Linked DNA regions of Homo sapiens. The gene in region 3 interacts genetically with the main gene of each other region. Each region holds a gene or a part of one and is shown on either strand. Other genes may lie near its edges.

The links. A genetic interaction does not mean that the proteins touch.
Region 1: changes in MAPKAP1 (region 3) and SSBP1 together harm fitness more than expected from each alone (negative genetic interaction), as found in Homo sapiens cells (one large-scale study listed by BioGRID).
Region 2: changes in MAPKAP1 (region 3) and CACTIN together harm fitness more than expected from each alone (negative genetic interaction), as found in Homo sapiens cells (one large-scale study listed by BioGRID).
Region 4: changes in MAPKAP1 (region 3) and COX16 together harm fitness more than expected from each alone (negative genetic interaction), as found in Homo sapiens cells (one large-scale study listed by BioGRID).

What each region holds. Positions count from the first base shown.
Region 1 is NC_000007.14:141,748,289-141,751,066, reverse strand, and holds the end of SSBP1 (single-stranded DNA-binding protein, mitochondrial precursor), read right to left. Parts: intron 757-2,778; coding exon 713-756; 3' UTR 579-712; downstream 1-578.
Region 2 is NC_000019.10:3,620,213-3,623,859, reverse strand, and holds part of CACTIN (splicing factor Cactin), read left to right. Parts: coding exon 1-172; intron 173-3,057; coding exon 3,058-3,153; intron 3,154-3,587; coding exon 3,588-3,647. UniProt on the Homo sapiens protein: Plays a role in pre-mRNA splicing by facilitating excision of a subset of introns. Required for the splicing of CDCA5/Sororin, a regulator of sister chromatid cohesion. Involved in the regulation of innate immune response.
Region 3 is NC_000009.12:125,697,209-125,700,855, reverse strand, and holds part of MAPKAP1 (target of rapamycin complex 2 subunit MAPKAP1), read left to right. Parts: intron 1-3,647. UniProt on the Homo sapiens protein: Component of the mechanistic target of rapamycin complex 2 (mTORC2), which transduces signals from growth factors to pathways involved in proliferation, cytoskeletal organization, lipogenesis and anabolic output.
Region 4 is NC_000014.9:70,356,806-70,361,040, reverse strand, and holds the start of COX16 (cytochrome c oxidase assembly protein COX16 homolog, mitochondrial isoform 1 precursor), read left to right. Parts: upstream 1-1,357; 5' UTR 1,358-1,453; coding exon 1,454-1,522; intron 1,523-4,235.

The sequences.
Region 1 (2,778 bases), on a different chromosome or scaffold from region 3:
CGATTTCATCTCTAATTATTCAGGTCCTTATTGCTGGTAAACTATGTTTCATCAATGCTACTAATGAAACTGTCCAAAAACAAAAGATATGAAGAAGGTAGGTTAGTCTTAAAGATGTTTAGGTTAGACACTAACCACTGCTCAGCAACTCCCTTCAATTTGAGCTGAAGCTTAGAATCCCATTGGGATGATTCATCTATCAATGCTTACTGAGTGGCTATTCTATGTAAAGCATGGTTTAAAGTGCAGGCAAACAGAAGATTCAGTCCTTGCCTTCATGTCTACAGAGCAAAACGTTAAGAAAATCAATATTTACAAATATGGGATAAATGTCTCACATACAGTGATGCTCAGTAAATTCACTGATTGGACAAATCAATATTGTAATAAAAGTGTATACAAAAACCAGGAGACCTTCCCAAAGCATATTTATCCCTTTGCCATAACACAAATGAGCCTGAAAGTTTACTATTTTGTATACCTGTACATAGAAACCACCCTTAGAAGAATAAACAACTAGTAAATGCCATAACAGATAGTAGCTACCAAGATTATACCACAAAAAGGAGAGCGAGAACGACAGTCAGAAAAAAGATTATTACTCATTTTACGTAAAAGAGTATTTTAATTCTTGTCCTTGGAAGCCATAAAGATTATACATGACTTGGAAATGAGACTGTACCAAATGATGGCCAAAGAAGAATCATCCTTTCTACTCCTTCTCTTTCGTCTGGTCACTCAGAAATATAATATTATCTGTAAAAAAGCCAAAATGTAAATATTAATTTCAGAACTCTTTCTCCATCTCATTCAATAATTCTCCTCTAATACATATAACTTTAGTGCTGTTCATTAAAAGGATTTTAGCCATCTTTTCAAAATATTAAATCACTTGCTATGCTCACGAGAGGTATATATACAGTTGGCATAAGTGGAGCTACAAGTTAGGCACTGGCTGCTTTTCGAACAATTCAGATCTTGTTAGAAGAGGTGGGATATTTCTTGTCTTCCAGTCTTCTCAGAAACAATTTCCTGCAAAAGAACTGGTCACAAAATTGGATGCTTGCAATGGTCAGGCAGATTCCACGACACTAGGCAGCACATCCTCAGAGAAAAGGACAAAAGTGTATCACATTCTACACTCTGGGGGTCTAGAGGAAAGAGTAAGAGTCCATATGTGGCCCTGTTAGCAATGACAGGATTTACTTACGTTTTTAACTTTAAAAATTCAAATAGAAGAAATTTTATTTTTAAATTACAATACAGAATAACTTTTTGTTTTTCCTTTGGAGATGGAGTCTCTGTCACCCAGGCTGGAGTGAAGTGGTGCAATCTCAGCTTACTGCAACCTCTGCCTCCTGGGTTCAAGCGATTCTCCTGCCTCAGCCTCTCCAGTAGCTGGGATTATAGGTGTGCACCACCATGCCTGGCTAACTTTTGTATTTTTAATAGAGACAGGGTTTCACCATGTTGGCCAGGCTGGTCTTGAACTCCTGACCTCAAGTGATCTGCCCGCCTTGGCCTCCCAAAGTGCTGGGATTACAGGCATGAGCACCGCACCTGGCCCAGAATAATTTTAATATACCAATTCTTGGGAACATTTTATGAATCAACATCACAGAGTTAGCATTTTTATCCAAAAATATCAGACGTTGCTCTTAAAATGCTGTTCCAGAGGGAGTTAGCTAAAAATAAACAAAAGAACAGAGGCAAGTAGTAGTCATCCTTCAGTATCCATTGGGGGACTGGTTCCAGGACCCCTATAGATACCAAAATCCACAATGCTCAAGTCCCTGATATAAAATGGTATAGTAATCACATATAACCTATGTACTTCCTCTTATATACTTTAAATCATCTTTAGATTACTTACAATATCTAATACAAGGTAAATGCTATGTTAACAGCTGTTACACTGTATTGTTTCACTTGTATTTTTGTTGTTGTTGTATTATTTTTATTGGTTTCTTTTTTTCACATATATTCAATCTGTGCTTGGTTGAATCCACAGATGCAGAAACAAGGGACATGGAGGAATGACTGCATTTCCTTTATAATTCCAAAAGATTCTTGTAACTATAAAATTATCCACCAAGGACTGAATATTTGTTCATGACCATAGTCTTCCAAAAACTAGAATGTTTTGGTCCAGAACGGTTACTTCAGAACAAACTACTCGAATTAATATCACTGTGGAAAAAGCCAAGAGTGCCATCCACTGGTGGTGGTTTTTTAGTTACAGATAGGATCCCTAGGAGAAAAAAAAATCACCAATAAAACAGATCAACCAATAAACTCTATTTTCTTCAATTCAAATGTCACTGAAGAGCTCTTCAATTTTACCATTAGACATAAACCTAAAGTAAACTGACTGTGCTAGTGGAACCTAGTGACAAGGAAAAAAAACAAAACAGCATATCATCTGAAATGCTTCCGTTTGGCTTATTAGTAACAACTCAATAATCCGAACAATCTAAAGTTTGCCCACACTTGTGGTTTATATTGGGACCCACAGGAGGGTAGGAAAATACCTACACTGCTTTTCAAGGTTAATACACTTTCAAAGAAACTTAGCAGTAAGAAACCATGTGAGCATTCTATACAAATTATAAATTATTAATAAGGTATGGTGGTTAAGACATGAACTCTGGAGCAAAGGAAAGAAGAAAGATAAAAGGCAAATCTAAGAGACTTAAGGTAGAAATCATGTAATATAATGTATGAATGTTTATGAAGTTATCAAGGAAATTTGAACACTACGATATTTAGTAAAAAAAT
Region 2 (3,647 bases), on a different chromosome or scaffold from region 3:
GAAGGCCTTCGAGACGCCCGAGGAGAAGCGCGCACGGCGGCTGGCCAAGAAGGAGGCCAAGGAGCGCAAGAAGCGGGAGAAGATGGGCTGGGGTGAGGAGTACATGGGCTACACCAACACCGACAACCCCTTCGGAGACAACAACCTGCTGGGCACCTTCATCTGGAATAAGGTGGGCCCCGCCGGGTGGTGGCCTCTGTCCCTGTAGCATTTCCACTGTTTCTGGAGACCCCAACACTTGAGACACTCCCAGCCTGCCCTTGATCGTGCAAGAGTTGGTTTTACACACACACGCATAAGCAAGCTTCTGCCGCTATCAGCTTTCTTTTTTGACACAGGGTCTCGCTCTGTCGCCCAGGCTGGAGTGAAGTGGTGTGATCTCGGCTCACTGCAAGCTCCACCTCCCGGGTTCATGCCATTCTCCTGCCTCAGCCTCCTGAGTAGCTGGGGCTACAGGCGCCCGCTACCACGCCCGGCTAATTTTTTGTATTTTTAGTAGAGACAGGGTTTCACCATGTTAGCCAGGATGGTCTCGATCTCCTGACCTTGTGATCCACCCGCCTTGGCCTCCCAAAGTGCTGGGATTACAGGCGTGAGCCACCACGCCCGGCCAGCTTTCTTTTTTGACTCAGGGTCTCGCTCTGTCACCCAGGCTGGAGTGCAGTGGCGTGATCGTGGCTAACTGCAGCCTTGACCTCCTGGCCTCAAGCGATCCTCCTACCTCAGCGTTTTGACTTGCTGGGACTACAGGCACCACCACCATGCCCGGCTAATTTTTTATTTTTTTGTAAAGATGGAGTCTCACTATGTTGGCCAGGCTGGTCTCGAACTCCTAAGCTCAAGTGATTTTCCCACCTCGGCCTCCCAGAGTTCTGGGATTACAGGCATGAGCCACTGCGCCCAGCCCACCGTCATTTTCTTGCCATTAACTGTGTCTCTTGCGGTGTAAGCTTCAGCCATTCTTTGCCCCGAACACCAGCCCAACCTGAAACCTATCTAGAGAGCCAGCTCTTGGCATCATGTACCCAGGACAGGGTTCCACAGTTCCAGGCGCTCTGTCGTCTGAGCTGGTTCTTTCGTTCTGCGCCTGCCATTTAGCCACCAGTCACACCAGTGGCATAAGACAACAGAACTTATCATCTCTTCGTTCTGGAGTCCAGAAGTCCAAAATCAAGGCGTGGGCAGGTGTGGGCAGGACCCCACTCCCTCTGGGGGCCGAGGGGAGGCCCCTCCTGCCTCTCCCAGCTCCAGTCATGGCCGGTGATTCCTGGGCCCTCCCTGGCTTGCAGCCGCAGAACCCGGCCTGTTCCTGTGTTGTGTGGCGGTCTGCCTTCCCGTCTCTGTCTCCATACGGCCTTCTGCTCTGTGTGTCTGTGTGTAAATGTTCCTCTTCCCATGAGGACACCAGGCATTGGATGAGGGCCCGCCACCTCCAGGATGACCTCATCTTACCTACGTCTGCAAGACCTCATCACTTTTTTTTTTTTTTTTTTTTTGAGATGGAGTCTCACTCTGTTGCCCAGACTAGAATGCAAAGGCGCAATCTCGGCTCACTGCAACCTCCGCTTCCTGGGTTCAAGTGATTCCCCTGCCCCAGCCTCCCAAGTAGCTGGAATTACAGGCGGGTGCCACCACACTCAGCTAATTTTTGTATTTTTAGTAGACAGAGTTTAACCATGTTGGTCAGGCTGGTCTCGAACTCCTGACCTCAAGTGATCTGCCCGCCTTGGCCTCCCAATATGCTGGGATTACAGGTGTCAGCCACCATACCTGGCCAAGACCTCATTTCACATGGGGTCATGATTACAGCTGCAGGGGTTCAGACGGGGATGTGCCTGTGGGGGACACAGCTCATCTGAAGCAGCATCCACTTGTGGAGGGGGTGGAGCAGGCAACGTGTGGGCTGGGCCGACTGCACCTGCTCGCCGGTTGCGCAGTTGGGAGCTGTGGGGTCTCCAGGTGGCTTCTGCCCGATGTCGTCTGAGAACACAACGAGCTCCTTCCGCCTCGGGGCCCTCACACTGCCGCGCCCCTGCCTGGACATGCTCTGCCCCTTCCCCGGCTGTTCTCTTCCGTCAGGCCTCAACTGACACATCCCCTCTTGAGAGACCCCTTCCTGGCCCCTTGCTCCCCAGACCCCCCAGAGTTCTTTATTGAGGCACACACTGCTGCCTGGCACTTCATCGCCACCATGTGCTGTGCACCTGCGGTGTGCTGGGCACCACCGTGAGCTCTGGGCGGGCAGCCATGGAGGAGGAAGATGTGGTCATCGTTGACGCCTGTGGAAGCGGCCCCAGGCTGGGTTGGATAGACCACAGAGTGGCCCGGGTGTCTGGGGGTGGTCCCCAGCCAGGCAGCCTGTGTCCCTGGAGGCAAGTTCTGGGCGGCAGGGGTTCCTGGAACCCCCTCATGGCGACGGGGCACCGGGAGCCTGAGGAAGGTGGTCGGGAAGTGGGGGCTCCGCGCCAGGCTCTCAGACAGCTGCTGGAAGAAGCCAGCTTTGAGGGTCTCCAGGCTGGGACAAGCCCATCAGTGGCCACCCCTGTGCCCCGCTGTGTGGGCGGGGCCCCATGACCCCACAGGTTTGCTTTCAGAGCTGCTGCTGCCCCCACTCACTGTTCCTGCCCTGTCCCACGTGCAGTGGGGGACCCTGACTTGCTGAGGGCGTGGCCTTCACGTCCGAAGCACTCAGACTCCCGGGTAAAGCGAGTCAGCAGGCCCCGAGCAAGGCTCTTCTGTTGGGGGCTGGGGTGGCCCCGAGCAAGGCCCTCCTGTTGGGAGTTGGGGCGGCCCCGAGTGAGGCCCTCCTGTTGAGAGTTGGGGTAGCCCCTTCTTACCCTTTGCATACATCTCACTCCCAGTGGGGGCTCCATGTCTGCACTGAATTGGATGCACTGGGTTTCAGGAGTGTTAAGGAGGGGGTGGAAGACGTGCAGTGCTGGCAGGTCACCTCTCTCTGCAAAACAAGGGCCCTGGTCAATCTCTTGGACGAAGGAGCTGAGGAGGGGGGCGAGGGGGCGGGTCTGTGCTCAGGGCAGGTGTGCCTGGTGCTTCCAGGCCCTGGAGAAGAAGGGGATCAGCCACCTGGAGGAGAAGGAGCTGAAGGAGCGGAACAAGAGGATCCAGGAGGACAACCGGCTGGAGCTGCAGAAGGTAGGCACCCTGCCAGCCCACTGGGCAGGGCCCTCCCTTTCCAGGGCCTGGAGGCCCGCCCCCTTTGGCAGGACTTGAGGGGCTTAAGTGGGAAGTCCTGGGGGCTGGCTTCAGGTAAGGCTGGATCCAGGGGCTCAGACCATGGCCCCAGGAAACTGTTTCCCTCCACCTCTCGGCTCTGCTGGCCTCGGGCCTTCACTCCCACATGCTCCCTTCAGGGTGGCCGAGAGGGCCCCAGCTGATCTGAGCTGCTGAGTCTCGGGCAGGAGGGCCCTCTCCCTTCCCAAGGTCTGTCCACCAGCCCAGGCATCTCCGGACCAATCCCTGTGCCCAGGGCAGCTGGGTGAAGGCTGGGCCCCCATCATCACAGCCCCTCCCCCCGCAGCCCTGCAGACCGCACGGTCCCCGCTGCCCTCAGCCTCCTGTGCCTGCAGGTGAAGCAGCTGCGGCTGGAGCGGGAGCGGGAGAAGGCCATGCGCGAGCAGGAGCTGGAG
Region 3 (3,647 bases):
CCCAGCCCAAGAGTTTAATTTATTTTTATTTTAATACCCAGCTTTCACAAGGTGAAAATTGAAGAAATACTGGTCTTGTAGATACTTGTTTTCATTCATACTCTATTGTATAAGGAAATAACAGAATATAAAAATAAAGGGAATAAATCCTGAGCAGTCATTCAAAATTTATTAACTCTAGTTGGCAGCAGTCTAGATATATTGGGGAAATGGATTTAATATAGGCAACACAAAATTTGGACTGAAAGTAGAATACAGTTTTATGTAATTGAAAGTGAGAAAAATGGGAGAAACCACTTAAAAAACAAACCCGAAACTCTAGAAAGAACAAGAAGGTATTAGAATAACTATTGGAATTAAGTTATAGTAATTGCTTGTGAAATAAGTGGAATATTATGTCACATTTATGCCTAAATATAAGCAGTGTTAGATTCTTAATATCCTATACGTGAGTATACTTTTATGAATATACTTTTATTATTGATGCAAAGTGTACTGAATGTGTAAAACTTCAAAAAAAATAACATTTTCCAGTTCCTTATGGACTCATTTTAAGGTACTGTGTTATAAATAAGTACCATTTCAGCAGAGAAATTGGTAGAAAATTGTTTGAAGGAATGGTTTTCTTTTGAAAATAAAGCGAGTATTTAATCTGAACCTTAGTTACTGACATAAAGGAGACTAACGAAGAACTGAAGTGCAGACTTGAATTTTAAGCAGTGTGACATGGGGCTTTGGGCAGACCCGCTTGGATTTGATTATTGGCTTTGTCAGTCTGTAAGCTGGACAGTCTGCAAAATGGGGACAGTAATGCCAATCTCACATAGTCCTTAGTGAGGACTAAATGAAACAATATATGTAAGTACCTTGTAAGTACTGTAGTGCTTCTGGAGAGATGCAGGTCCAGGCTGAGCATCCCTACTCAAAATATTCAAAATCTGGGCCAGATTTGCTGGCTCACACCTTTAATCCCAGCACTTTGGGAGGCCAAGATGAGTGGATTGCTTGAGCTTGGGAGTTCAAGAGCAGCCTGGGCAAAATAATGAAACCCTGTCTCTACAAAAATATTAGCCAGGCATGGTGGCGCACATCTGTAGTTCCAGGCTGAGGTAGGAGGATTGCTTGAGCCCAGGGGGCTGAGGCTGCTGTGAGCCATGATCACACCACTGTACTCCAGCCTGGGCAACAGAGCAAGACTGTCTCAAAAAAAAAAAAAAATCAAAATCAAAAATCCTTCAAAATTCAAAACTTTTCGAACTGACATGATGCCACAATTGGAAAATTCTATGCCTGACCTCATGTGACAGGTTGCAGTTAAAACTTTATTTCATGCATAAAATTATTAAAAATACTGGCTGGGTGAGGTGGCTCATAACCAGCAATCCTGGGAGGCCAAGGTGGGAGGATTGCTTGAGTTCAGGAGTTAGAGACTAGCCTGGGCAACACAGCAAGACCTTGTCTCTACTAAAAATCAAAACAATTAGCTTGGTGTGGTGGTGTGTGCCTGTAGTCCCAGCTACTTGGGAGGCCGAGGCAGGAGGATCGTTTGAGCCCGGGGTGTCAAGGCTGCAGTGAGCCATGATTGTGCTCCTGCACTCCAGCCTGGATGACAGAGGGAGACCCTGCCTCAAAAAAGAAAAAAAAAGTTAGTATAAAATTACCTTCAGGCTATGTGTGTAAAGTGTATATGAAATATAAGTGAATTGCGTGTTTAGACTTGTGTCTTATCCCCAGGATACTGCATGATATATATGAAAATATTCCAAAATTCAAAGAAAATCCAGAGTCTGAAACACTTCTGGTCCCAAGCATTTTAGATAAGGGATGCCAACCTCTAATGGCATTCAGGGCATAAGACATTCAGGATGTTAATATGATGTAATAAGCAATGATTTGATGGAGTGGTCATAAAAGAGTGAGACTCATTTTCATGTCTGGATCATGAAATTTGTTAATTTCTGTTGTGTTTTGTAAATTAGTGCACCTACATACTGTATTGAGAGAAGGACTTTAGGATGCTGTTTTTAAGCTATTATGTGAATTGATCTGCTGAGTAACAAGAAACACTTCCAAGTGTTTATATTATCTTTTTTGTGCCTGTAACTGCTCTTTGTTAGAAAAGGGATATTATGTTATCCCCGTCCCCATTTTACAAATGCCGAAACTGAAGCTTAGAGAAGTAATGTAATTATTAATAAAAATATAGAGCTACCGGGCCGGGTGCGGTGGCTCATGCCTGTAATCCCAACACTCTGGGAGGCTGAGGCAGGTGGATCACCTGAGGTCAGGAGTTCGAGACCAGCCTGGCCAACATGGCGAAACCCTGTCTCTACTAAAAATACAAAAATTTGCCAGGCGTGGTGGCACACACACGCCTATAGTCCCAGTTACTCGGGAGGCTGAGGCAGGAGAATTGCTTGAACCCGGGAGTCGGAGGTTGCCATGAGCCAAGATTGCGCCATTGCACTCCAGCCTGGGTGACAAGAGTGAAACTCCATCTCAAAAAATATATATATTTTATATATATATATATATATATATATATATATATATATATATATATATATTTATATATATTATGTATTATATATATTTATAAATTATATATTTATATATTTTGAGATGGAATATATATATACACACACATATATATACACATATGTGTGTGTATATATATATACTTTTTGTATATACGTATAGAGAGAGCGAGAACGCGCATGCGTGAGTAGCAAAACTAGGACTTGACCTTTGTTTTGACTCAGAGTACTGAAAAGCACTATTACTTTTTTTTTGGAGTTGGGGGTCACTTTTCCATGCTGCTCTGGATTTGGATATTGGGACTGGCCCTGTCTTGGGACTGTCATTAATTATGGCCCTTTGCCTTCATTTAAACTTAATGTTTACAGAAAGTTATTATTGATTATATTGTGAGAGTGTTTGATTATAGGTATAGTGTTATGATATGAAGCTTAAGGATTTGATGAAAATACTAATACTCATTGATAATAAAGATTGGTGGTAAGATGGTAAGATGGTTACTCATATTGATAGTGGGAATGTAAATGAGTAAAACTTTTCTGGAAAGCACTTTGGCAGTATTTATTAACAAGCTTTTAAAAAAAGTTATGCATGCCTTTTGAGCTTGTAATTCCATTTCTAGGAATCTTTATTAAAGAAATCAGAGATGTCGAAAGATATTCGTGTTCAAAGATGTTCACTGCAGCAGTATTTAGCAAAAATTAGAACCTTAATGTTCAATAAAAATTAGAGAAATCATGGAAAATTCATAGAATGGAAATAATATACAGTCATCTTAGATGTTTCAGAAGAATTTTAGTGACATACTAATATGCTAACCATATAATAAGTGAAAAAAGGATATGACACTCTATAAAGTATGGTCCCAATTATGTCAAACATGTATGCAAAGAAAAGAAATAGGTGGTGAGATTATAAGACTTGATATTTTTCTCAGTTTTAGAAATGTTCTTTGATAAACAAATTATTTAAAAATAAATCATAGTTTAAAATTGATATTAACAAATATGAGTAGAGTCAGTGACCATCATTTTAACCAATAGTTTTCACTAATGCAGGTGATTGTGAAGTTGTAAATGGATTGTATTTTCAAGTTAGTTTTCACCTCT
Region 4 (4,235 bases), on a different chromosome or scaffold from region 3:
ATGTGTAGAGTGGTGGAGCAAACTCCTATTCCATCTCCTTGCTTCAAAAACCCATTTAACATATTTTCCTTGGATAGAGAATGTGTCAAATATTAAACTGTTAAGAACAGATACTACACTTGATCTTAGCCAAAAGGATAAGTTTCACTGGAGTAGCCTGCAGTAGATCTGGAGCTTCTCTTCTGGAGACCACTTAAGAGGCTACTTTAATAGGTGAAAAGATGATAAGGAATTAAAAAAAGGAACATTTCAGTGGTAACAGAGAGGCAGGGACAGATGGAAATATTTCAGGAATAGCATGGAAGATAATATTCCGCATCACCTGCACTCTGATTCACTCTGGTAAATGGGACACGTGGGGGATCGGCTTCCTAAGCTATCCCAGTACTTCACACATGTTTGTTTCTGTGCCCATGAAATCGCCAGTGTCTTTAAGGTAAGGATCATATATTTTTATCTGTGTTCCTAGAACCCTTTCAAAGACACGCTGAAAGGTGGCCTGTATGGTTGCTGAATCATTGGTAAATAGACATTCATAAATGACTAAAGATTACAGGTTATCTCACAGTAAAATCATTAGCATTAAAAGTTCAGTAATGACTGATGAGACACTACACTGATTACATTTCAACCTAATCTTTCAAAAGCGATTTATTTTTAAAAGTCTCCATTAAACTGGCAAATTCCTCATCCCACAAATAGCCATAAAGACTGGAGTACCAGCTTCAAAATACTTTTTTTTCTTTTTTCTTTTTGAGACGAAGTCTCGCTCTTGTTCCCCAGGCTGGAGTGCGATGGCGCGATCTCTGCTCATTGCAACCTCCGCCTCCCGGGTTCAAGCGATTCTCCTGCCTCGGCCCCCCAGTAGCTGGGATTACAGGCGCCTGCCACCACGCCCGGCTAATTTTTGTATTTTTTTTTTTTAATAGAGACGGGGTTTTACCATGTTGACCAGGCTGATCTAGAACTCCTGACCTCAGGTGATCTACCGGCCTCGGCCTCCCAAAGTGCTGGGATTACAGGCCACCCACCCAGGCCACCGCGCCCGGCCTCAAAATACTTTTTTCCTTAGCTGATTTTATCGAGTGGCTATGTGCCTAAGGGAGTGTTCTAAGCAGACGTTAGTTAGGACCCAGAACGTGGGAAGTACTGGTTTCCAGATCAATTTGGTGGTGATCGTAAACCGATTCAAATCTCTAAATCCCAATTGCACGCCGACGTTACGGAACCAAAAACGCTGACGCCCACATTTCTGGGCGGACGCACAAGTATGTTACGATGGCTCGATTGCTTTTGCCTAGCGGAAACCATTCACTAAGGACCGAGCACCAAATAACCAAGGAAAAGGAAGTGAGTTAAGGACGTACTCGTCTTGGTGAGAGCGTGAGCTGCTGAGATTTGGGAGTCTGCGCTAGGCCCGCTTGGAGTTCTGAGCCGATGGAAGAGTTCACTCATGTTTGCACCCGCGGTGATGCGTGCTTTTCGCAAGAACAAGACTCTCGGCTATGGAGTCCCCATGTTGGTGAGTGGAGTGAGGAGGATCTTCCGCAAGGGGTGGGACCCTCCTCCTTGGCAGGATCAAGACCTGGGAGGGAATCTGTAAAATGTGAAGTTAAGGGCTGGCACTCGGGCTAGGAAGGAGCTAGCGACGGGGTGAGAGCTTTCCTAAAAGCTCTTCCACCAGTCTTTTCCACACCCCCACTTCCCCGCCGCTGTCCCCCACTCCCGGTTGGATTTCAGGTGTACTAGGATCTGTCTGCTTGTGAGCGTGGCGTCTTTCCCATCGTCGAACGCGGTCATTGTTACTACCCTTGATTCACAGTTAAGTAAATTGAAGCTCAGAGAATTCAGTCAGAACCACACTTTAAGCCAAGTTTGGATGATTACTAAGCTTGCTTCCTCGCCCCCAACTTAGCTATGTTTTGACGATACTGTGGATCATTGGGACTAGATGTATTCCATTTAACTGCACGAATTCCTGGTATCTTTCTGTTTCATCTTTCTAGTTTGTGAATTAGCTTAATACTTAGAGTTGTGATGAACTAATAACACCTTGTGAATAAAGTGTTGAGTACGGTGCCTGCCACATTGTAGCCAGAATGATTGCTGTGTTATAATTTCTAAAGCACGTTGAAAACAGCTTCCGTGTTTATATGGTTTCATCCATATCCACACTGAGTTCCCTAAGGATGTCATGAAATGCAGGCTGAGGCTGGCTTAAGACAACCAGAGTTGAAATCCAGATGACTCTTATTTGCTTTTTGATTACGGGCCAGTTATTTTGCTTCAGCAAGCCTTGATGTGTTAGTAAATGAAATAATTAAAGCATATGAACAAAAGCTGCTTTTAAATACAGACTATATTTTTATTTTGTATGAATGTTGGCGCAGATGAAATTACCAGCTTTTCCATTTAAGCAGACTAAAGGAAAGAAGTGATCTTAGAAAGGTAATGGATATTTTACACAGTTTTGAAAAATCCACATTCATCAAATGTGGATTTTAGGAATCTCCAAAAGATTCACCCATTTGAAGTATCTGGGCCAAGCACGATGGCTCACACCTGTAATCCCAGTGTTAGGGGAAGCCAAGACAGGAGGATCGCTTTAGGTCAGGAGTTCCAAACCAGCAAGACCTCTGTCTCTCCAAAAAAAAAAAAAAAAAAAAAAATTGTTGTTTTTAGCAAATTCGATATTAGTATACTAATATATTCGTATATTAGTATATTCTTAGTTATGGAGCCATCACCACAATTTTAGAACATTTTCATTGCCCCCAAAAAAGCATCATAACTAATAGTAGTCACTTCCCATTTCTTCCTGCCTCTTAATGCTGGCCTGGTAAACCACTAATCTACTTCTACCCGTAAATTTGCTTATTCTGCACATTTCATATTAACACACTAATACAACGTGGGTTTTTTGTGACTGGATTCTTCCACTTAGAATGTTTTTAAGGTTCATTCACATTGTAACATATATCAATACTTCATTCCTTTTGATGGATATAATTCCATTGTTTGGATATATTTTATCAATTGATGAACATTTGGGTTGTTTCAATTTTTGACTATTATGAATAATGCTGCTATGAACATTTATGTACACGCTTTGTGTGGAAGTATGTTTTCATTTCTCTCAGGTAGGGAATATACCTAGACGTGGAATTGCTAGGTCATATGGTAACTCTTCAACTTTTTAGGATGTGCCAGATGTTTTCCAAAGTGGCTGCATCATTTTACATTCCCACCAGCAAGATATGATTTTCAATTTCTCCACATCCTTGCCAACACTTGTTATTGTCCATCTTTTGAATTATTACCCTTTCTAGTAGGTGTGAAGTGATACCTCATTGTGGTTTTGATTTTCATTTCCCTAACGACTTATTATGTTGAGCATCTTTTCAAATGTTTATTGGTCATTTGAATATCTTTTTGGAGAAATGTCTGTTCAAATCCTTTGCCCATTTTTTAATTGGACTATGTTTCCTTTTATTGGACAGAGGTTTCTTTAAAACCCAAAACCAACAAATCTGCCAGTCTTTGTCGAGAGGCTCTGCATGCTTTTTTGGGCATGCTTTCAACATTCAGCCATGCAATTTACAGCTCCATGTATAGCCTTCACTTCTTACTTGCTCAGAGCTTCAAATTAGTCATAAGTTGAGAATTTAGGGCCTTCTCAGGTCTTTCTTGGGCATATACATTGCTCTGGGCATGTACACAGTTCTAGTTATTTGCATGACTTTCTAAATTCTCAGGAATATATTTGAGCTTTTCAGAGTCCTCTAAGGACACCTTATTCCTATTATCTACCACATCAGACAGTCATAATGTTAAACAATTACCTCTGAATTTTTTTTTTTTTTTTTTTTTTTTTTTTTTTTTGACAAACGCTTCCTAGGAGAAGTCTGTTCATACTAGTTGAGCTCCATGTCAGGTAAACTACAGAGAGCTTTGTGAATAGCATCTTCCAGGAAGTACCAGACTGGTGAAATGATGACATTTCTCACAGAATGGTGTTTTAAAGAGCTCCAACCTCTCTACCCTCTTCACTTGGTGCCAGGCTTTACATCATGTTTGCAGGCTGTTGGTTTTCATGGTTGTTACGGAGCTTGGGTGGAGGGGTGAGAATATGACAAATTAAAAATGCCACCAAGCTGTTCTTCCTGAGATTCAGGCATTTTTCTTAGGTAAATACTGTGCACATTGTTGCAAGTTTTTGCTTAATTTTCAGAGTT